Linked DNA regions of Homo sapiens: regions 2 and 3 are each linked to region 1. Evidence: fine-mapped expression QTL. A gene starts in region 1. Each other region holds a variant in brackets. All regions are shown on one strand. Distances are from middle to middle. Region 1 holds the start of URM1 (ubiquitin related modifier 1). Region 2 has its middle 5.4 kb from the start of MIR219A2HG. Region 3 has its middle 11 kb from the start of MIR219A2HG.

Region 1 (2,500 bases):
GGGCAGAAATGCTGAACGCTGTAGGGCACGGACAGACTTCTATTTATCTTTGTATCCTCAGTGTCTGGCTTGCTGCCCGGCACATGGTAGGCACTCAATAAATGGCTGGTGAATGAACTACCCAATTAAGGGAAAACATGAAAGAAATGGGAGGCATCCAATGAGAAGAAAGGCACTGGGCAGAGGTTTTAGATTCCCATCCCAGACTTTTCCTGTCACATAGACCTTGGCTTATCTACACACACACAGGCACACACACACACCTACCTATTCCACACACACACACACACATCCCTACCTATTTCCTCTTTTCCACGTGATACTGTAAAGTACACCACCCATCTTTCAAGGCCTGTTTCTTTGCCTTCTCTCTAAGCTCTGCAGTTTCCCTCAGCTTTGAAACCATATGACAAACCTGTTTGTAGGAAGCACAAATAGTGCCTTGGGTAGACTTCCTCCCTGCTCTGTGTTTCTTCAGTAACTGGTGTGTGTCCCAATCTCTGCATTTTTCATCTTGTGTATACTATACTGTCCCTGTTAGTTCCCTTCAGTGTGATTTCTTATTTGTCCCCGTGTCTCCACCTGACTCCAGTTCTGCAGAAGGCAATCAGCAAGTTTACTGACTGTCCTGAAGGAGGCTCAGGTCTGTTTACCATCCCCAAGTCTTAGGAAAGAAAAAGAAAAAAGTCCCGCCCTGGCCACTACATCCCACGAGAAACAAGACCTTAATAACAGTGTAAAAAGAAACTGCTGCCCAAAGAATGAAATCAGCGGGTGGAGGGTGGTCCTTCTAGGTTCTAGGAGCTCAGATGCCAAACAGATGGGATTGGTCCGAGATAGGAATGGAAAAGAAGAGAGAGAGGCTGCCTGCTAACAGTCACGACCTCCGACTCCGGCGGAGCACAGGGCACCGAGTGGTACACAGAGAGCATTTCCCTCCCAATGTGCGCCTCTATTTCCGGACAGACGGCCTCACTGCCAAGAGAGACTGGCCTCTCAGACTCTCCTAGGCGGGTAGCGTAGCTCACAGCGGGCACTGGGACACCCAGTGATTCGGCCGTGTCAGGCCCCACGGCAGAAGGAAAGGAATTCTGGGCCCGACGACTTCAATCCATCCCCACGGCGCCCCAGCTCTGTGACTCACCCGAACTCCACCTCCACTGACAAGGGCGCAGCCATGTTGAGGAAGCCGAGCTCGCAGGAAACTCCCCTCAACTTCCGGCGCGCCCGCAAATTTCCGGGCGTCTCCGGGTGCCGCGGACGGAAGAGGCGGTGCCCAGGGATCCAGCTTCGTCAGCTGTTGGAGGAAGTCATCGAGGGGAGGGGAGGGGAGGGGAGGGCAGCGGAGGGAAAGGGGTGGCAGAGGGACTATCACCGGCGCTGTTGGGGCTGTGAATCGGTCTCCTTCCGTCTTTCACCGACTGGGCTCAGAGACCCAGGGTGGGAAGCGCCTTGTACGGGACCACAAGCAGGCGGAGGAGAGCCCCCAGGTTTTTTGCGACGTGACCGTGAGCCACGTAGCTGCTTATCTTGCATGAGTTAGAATCTCTTCAGTCTACACACCGCTTGGGCCAGCCCATCTACTCGTCTGGTTGGAATTATAAATGACTCCCAGATCTTTATTTCCGACCCAGAATCTCTCCTGAGCGGGCGACTCGCTATCCAGCCGCCCCCTTTGCTGTCGATTTGGAAGTCACTCGTTCAACAGCTGTTCATTGCGCCTCCCTGTGCCAGGCATTTTGATCGGTGCTAGTGGTAAAGGGGATGGGCAAGGTTCCTGCCTTTAGGGCACTCACAGTCTAGCGGGGAGACTAACTGTAATCAAATAAGCATACTAAGACATGTACAACCTCAAACTTAAATAAAGGAACTGAAGTTATAGGAACTTCAAAAAGAAAACTGAGTAGACTGGACTTGCTGGGCTCTAAAACCTGAGTAAACTAGGTGGCTGTGAGGGGAGAGAAACCTCTAGGAGCATTCCAGTGAGGAGGACAAAAGGCCCAGAGGCTCTGGGTGAGAACATGCTGGAACATGGAGAGGAAGGTGGAAGTTAGGGAGCCTGACTTTCATCCATCTAGAGAGGGAGCTGCAAAGGTGCTCAGGGGCCAACCCCTGCCTTGTAAGCAGGTAAACATTTCAGTCTCTAGGAGCAGTGGGAGACTACTGAAGGGTTTTGGGAGACAGTGACATTTTAGAATTGTGTTTTAAAATATAATTTCTGGCTGCAATATGGAGAATGATTTGAGGGGAATAAGGAAAGAGACACGGAGACCACTGGAGCCTGTTGCAAAAGCTCAGGGCAGGCCGGGCGCGGCGGCTCAGGGCAGGCCGGGCGCGGCGGCTCACGCCTGTCATCCCAGCAATTTGGGAGGCCGAGGCAGGCGGATCACGAGGTCAAGAGATCAAGACCATCCTGGCCAACATGGCAAAACCCTGTCTTTACTAAAAAAATACAAAAATTAGCTGGATGTGGTGGCGTGCGCCTGTAGTCCCAGCTACT
Region 2 (2,500 bases), 28 kb before region 1:
CTGAATAGCAATAGGGTTCTTTCCTCTATCCCAGGCTGCCAGGCCAAATCACAGTGAAACCCGGATTGACAGAAACACTTGGGGACAGGAATCTAGGGATGGAAAGATCTGGCACAGAGGTGGAGCCTGTCGCCACAGCTGTTCCCTGGGCATCTGTCTGCATGCTCTGGGTCCTGGACTTGCCTTAAAGTGCAGAACTGAGGCTGCTGCATGACAGAAGCCCCTCCCAGCCCCCTTCAATGAGCCTCACCCACAGCAATATCTCAAGTGCCACACCTAGAACCTCAGCTGATTGGCTGCAAACATCCGTGCACCCACTGTCAATTCCTTATTAATTTCATCTTTCACTCCATTGTCCCAAAGTCTGCTTTTTCATGCATCCGTCTCCATCTACCATTCATTTAATTATTACTTCAATAAAGCATTCATCAATTCATTCATTCATTCATCATTCATTCAACAGATGTTTACTGAGCATGTCCTTTGTGCTGAGCACAATGTTTGGTCAAATCCTTGGTAAAGGCCTGGTGCGGTGGCTCACGCCTGTAATCTCAGTACTTTGGGAGGCCGAGAAGGATCACCTGAGGTCAGGAGTTCGAGACCAGCCTGGCCAGCATGGCAAAACCCTGACTCTACTAAAAATACAAAAATTAGCCAGGCGTGGTGGTGGGCACCTGTAGTCCCAGCTAAGTGGGAGGCTGAGGCAGGGAGAATTGCTTGAACCTGGGAGGTGGAGGTTGCACTGAGCCGAGATTGCGCCACTGCACTTCAGCCTGGGTGACAGAGCAGGACTCCATAACCAAAAAAAAAAAAAAAAAAAAAAAAATCCTTGGTAAAATGCCAGGCCAGGCCAGGCCAGGTGCGATGGCTCATGCCTGTAATCCCAGCACTTTGGGAGGCTGAGGTGGGCGGATCACTTGAGGTCAGGAGTTTGAGGCCAACACAGTGAAACCCCATCTCTACTAAAAATACAAAAATTAGCTGGGCATGGTGGCACACACCTATAGTCCCAGCTACTTGAGAGGCTGAGGCATGAGAATTGCTTGAATCTGGGAGGCAGGGGTTGCAGTGAATGGAGATTGTGCCACTGCACTCCAGACTGCGTGACAGAGTGAGACTCCACTTCAAAAAAAAAAAAAAAAAGCCGGGTGCGGTGGCTCACGCCTGTAATCCCAGCACTTTGGGAGGCTGAGGCGGGTGGATCATGAGGTCAAGAGATTGAGACCATCCTGGTCTCAACCCACCTCTACTAAAAATACAAAATTTAGCTGAGTGTGGTGGCACGTGCCTGTAGTCCCAGCTACTTGGGAGGCTGATGCAGGAGAATTGCTTGAACCCGGGAAGTGGAGGTTGCAGTGAGCCGATATCACGCCACTGCACTCCAGCCTGGATGACAGACCGAGACTCCGTCTCAAAAAAAAAAAAAAAAAAAGCCAGTCCTGGTGGGAAGGAAGGGCTTGCTTAACTGGCAGTGTGGACAACTCTGCCGTCTTCTTTTTTAATTTTTTTTTTTTTGAGACGGAGTCTTGCTCTGTTGCCCAGG[C/T]TGGAGTGCAGTGGCGTGACCTCGGCTCACTGCAAGCTCCGTCTCCCGGGTTCACGCCATTCTCCTGTCTCACCCTCCCGAGTAGCTGGGACTACAGGCACTCGCCACCACGCCCGGCTAATTTTTTTGTATTTTTAGTAGAGATGAGGTTTCACCGTGTTAGCCAGGATGGTCTCGATCTCCTGACCTTGTGATCCACCCATCTCGGCCTCCCAAAGTGCTGGGATTACAGGCGTGAGCCACAGCGCCTGGTCTTCTTTTTTAATTTTTTTGTTGAGACAAGGTCTCACTCTGTCACCCAGGCCAGAGTGCACTGGTGGGATCTCAGCTCACTGCAACCTCCGCCTCCTGGGTTCAAACAATTCTGCCTCAGCCTCCTGAGTAGCTGGAATTACAGGCACCTGCCACCACGCTCGACTAATTATAGTATTTTTAGTAGAAACGGGGTTTCACCATGTTGGCCAGGCTGGTCTCAAACTCCTGACCTCAGGTGATCCGCCCGTCTCAGCCTCCCAAACTGCTGGGATTACAGGTGTGAGCCACTGCATCCTGCTGACTCTGCCATCTTCCTGAGAGTTGGTTGTGTGTGTGTGCTGTGTGTGTGTGCGCATGCACACCCGGGGTGTATGGTGGTGATGGTGGAAGCTCATGATGACACATTACTTAACTGCAAGCACATGCAGAGGGTGTTTGGATCCTCCTAACACCCACCCATTTCTAGAGAGGCAGGACAGGCACGATGGATAGGCACAGAGGCTGTCACTAAGATTCAGCCTCCTGGAATCACTTGTCCTGGAAGCCCAAGGCAATGCTGGCTCTTCCTGAAGTCTTCCCACAGCTTCCCTGTTGGAATGAATCTCTGTCTTCTATAATCCCCAGAACCTTGCTAATTCTTCAGCTACCGTGCTTTCCCGGGGCTCTGCTTTCATTAGAGTTGGCTGGGTATTTGTGTCTGTT
Region 3 (2,844 bases), 34 kb before region 1:
GAGTCCTATACCCTAGACTCCAGCCCCTCCTACCTCCTCACATTCCCAGCCCTCTCCTCCAGCTTCTCTAACCATCCCTTCAGCTCCCCTCACCAAACCATCAGTGACACACGAGTCCCAGACAGAGGGTGAGACAGTCACAACAGAAAAGGCCACAGAACCATGAGGACTCACGGAGATTGTGGGGGTCTTGGGGAGCCCCGACATGGACAACCTCTCCCTCCCTCACTGCCTGGCTGTGGGGCCAGAGGAGCACTCACCCGGGCAGAGCCTCTTGGGGGTACTCCTCAGCCCAGGAGGTGGATGGCACTGCTGGGGCGTCTCTGGCATAAGGTGACTCCCACCCAGCTCCTGCTGCTGAGAAGGACTGGTCAGGCGGGGCCCTCAGGTGCCAGACCGCCCTTCCCGGGCACAGATTTTCCTGGCATCTGCTGGGCAGGAAGGGCACTGGCTGGGGGTTGGGCAGAGGAGCAGGGAAAGATTTGAGCAAAGACGTCTCCCAGAGGGCTTCCCCCTAAACCTTCACCCCACTCTCCTTCTGGACACTGTAGGCCAAAGGTCCAGGAAGACAGGGAGCCTCAGGAGTGGGGAGAGGTCTGATCAAGGAGGCTGAGAGGAGCCCAGGCCCCTGCCCCCCGACCGCTCCCATCCACTGCCAGCAGGGCCCACACGGAGGTGTTTGCTTTTCCTGCCTCTACACTGACTCCATTCAGAGCAGCCGATCCCCACCCCCGGCCAACGACCAGAAAGTCAGGGCACCAGGGAGTGAGATCACGGCCCCCACCTCCCCCTCCACAACCCTTCCTGCCCTCTTCACTGCAGGAGATACCTCAGCCACAAGGGCTTCCTAGTTTCATGGACGACTGGGGCGTGGGGGGCTGGCAGGAGGAGAGAAAGAGGGAAACCAAGTCGAGAAGAGGGTGGTGGGAAGTATCTGAGGAGAGGGACGCAAAGGGACACGGACGATAGGGCTCCTGATGGAGGCGGCCCAGGCAGAGATGGGGCAGGGACAGGATGGGGGAGCCACAGAGCAGAGGACTGTCTAGGAGGCAGGCAGGGCCGTCACTAACCAGTCCAGGGCCTCACAGCCTGGCTCTGCACCGGTCACGGCCAGCAGGGCCCGGAGTGGACACTGAGGATGGGAGCTCCTGGCGCCCACCTGGAAAC[C/T]AGCCTCCTTCTCATCCCCGGAACAAGGGCCCAGGCAGAGCTGTGACCTGGTCTGTGGCCAGGGGAAGGAGGAGGGTGAAAAGTTTCCCCAAGTCAGAAGGCCATGGGGGAGGCATCTCAGGGGGTCCTGCTCTTTGCTGTCTCTGACTGTCACATTGGTACATAAAGGGGGTAGAAAGGTCAGATGCGGCCTTTCAGGCCCGTGGGAAAAACTCAGCCCATTTCCCTAATCCATATTTATTGGTGTGAGACACTGGGGTGGGAGGAAGCCCGCTGCCCCCACCCGCCGCCCCAGCCAGGCCAGGTTAGCACTAAGAACAGGCTCCATGTCACCCAAATCCTACTCTTTGTCTCCAGATTGGCTCCAGAATCCTCCCCCATCCCTCCTCCCCTTGGTCCCCCCCACCCAACCCCCCTCGGGGTTGCCAAGCAACCATGGAAGGGTAGCTGAGATATTTTCTTTATTACAAGCAAAAGCAAGACAGCATCATGGCCCCAGGAGGGGAGCAGGGTGGGGGCTGGGGGAGAGGGTGTCCTGTGCTCTGGGGGGACTCAGCCACCTCCACTTGTTCTGAGCGTGAGCAGTGGGGAGACAGGGCCCCAGAGCCCAAGAGAAGGAGGGAGATGGAAGAGAGTGTTGGTGAAGGGGTGGGTGGAGTGTGCAGACACTGGTCCACTCTACACAATGCTAAAAGATGGGGTGGTGCCATGAGACCCAGGCCTGAGTCTCTCACCTGCCACCCACCAGCTGTGCCATCTGCACCCAAGTCACTTCCCTTCTCTGGGCCTGTTTCCTCCTTGATAAAATGGGAATAATAATATGTATTATCTCATTTAATCCTCACAAAAGACCCAGGAGATGTTTATTTTTCCTATTTTATTGGTTAAGGAAGCTGAGGTTGGGAGGTATGAAGTCATGTGCCAAGCAGGTAAGTGGCAGAGGTGGGATTCCTGAGCCCCATCCCTCTCTTTTTATCTTTTTTTTTTTTTTTTTGAGATGGAGTCTTGCTCTGTCACCCAGGCTGGAGTGCAGTGGCAGAGTGGCGGGATCTTGGCTCATTGCAACCTCCGCCTCCCGGGTTCACGCCATTCTCCTGCCTCAGCCTCCGGAGTAGCTGGGACTACAGGTGCCCACCACCATGCCCAGCTAATTGTTTGTATTTTTAGTAGAGATGGGATTTCACCGTGTTAGCCAGGATGGTGTCGATCTCCTGACCTCATGATCCACCCGCTTCGGCCAGTGCTGGGATTACAGGTGTGAGCCGCTTCGGCCAGTGCTAGGATTACAGGTGTGAGCCACTGTGCCCGGCCTCTTTTTTTTTCATAACAGCATTGTTGAGATGTAATTCACATGCCATGCAATTTGCCTACTTAAAGTGTATCATTCAACAGCTTTTAGTATATTCAAGAATTGTGCAACCATCACAACAAGCCATTTTATATTTTCATTATTTTGAAAAGAAAGCCCATACTCAGGCTGGGCGTGGTGGCTCACACCTGTAATCCCAGCACTTTGGGAGGTCAAGGTGGGCTGATCACCTGAGGTCAAGAGTTCAAGATCAGCCTGGGCAACATGGTGAAACTACATCTCTACTAGAAAAATACAAAAATTAGCAGGGCGTGGTGGTGGGCACTTGTAATCCCAGCTACTCGGGAGGTTGAGGCAAGGAGAATTGC

What was found.
Region 2: its variant is fine-mapped to the expression of URM1 in fibroblasts (GTEx, PIP 0.97).
Region 3: its variant is fine-mapped to the expression of URM1 in testis (GTEx, PIP 0.96).

The regions. Positions count from the first base shown.
Region 1 is chr9:128,370,060-128,372,559 of GRCh38, reverse strand. It overlaps URM1 (ubiquitin related modifier 1), which reads right to left and starts at 1,186. Exons shown (of 5, transcript NM_030914.4): 1 at 1,145-1,186. The coding sequence starts at 1,179. RefSeq lists enhancers at 988-1,087, 1,151-2,014, 2,015-2,500.
Region 2 is chr9:128,397,686-128,400,185 of GRCh38, reverse strand. No RefSeq gene overlaps it. Among named protein-coding and RNA genes, the nearest start is that of MIR219A2HG, 5.4 kb to the right of the region's middle. The variant C/T (reference allele first, on the strand shown) is at 1,544.
Region 3 is chr9:128,403,505-128,406,348 of GRCh38, reverse strand. No RefSeq gene overlaps it. Among named protein-coding and RNA genes, the nearest start is that of MIR219A2HG, 11 kb to the right of the region's middle. RefSeq lists an enhancer at 792-1,592. The variant C/T (reference allele first, on the strand shown) is at 1,168.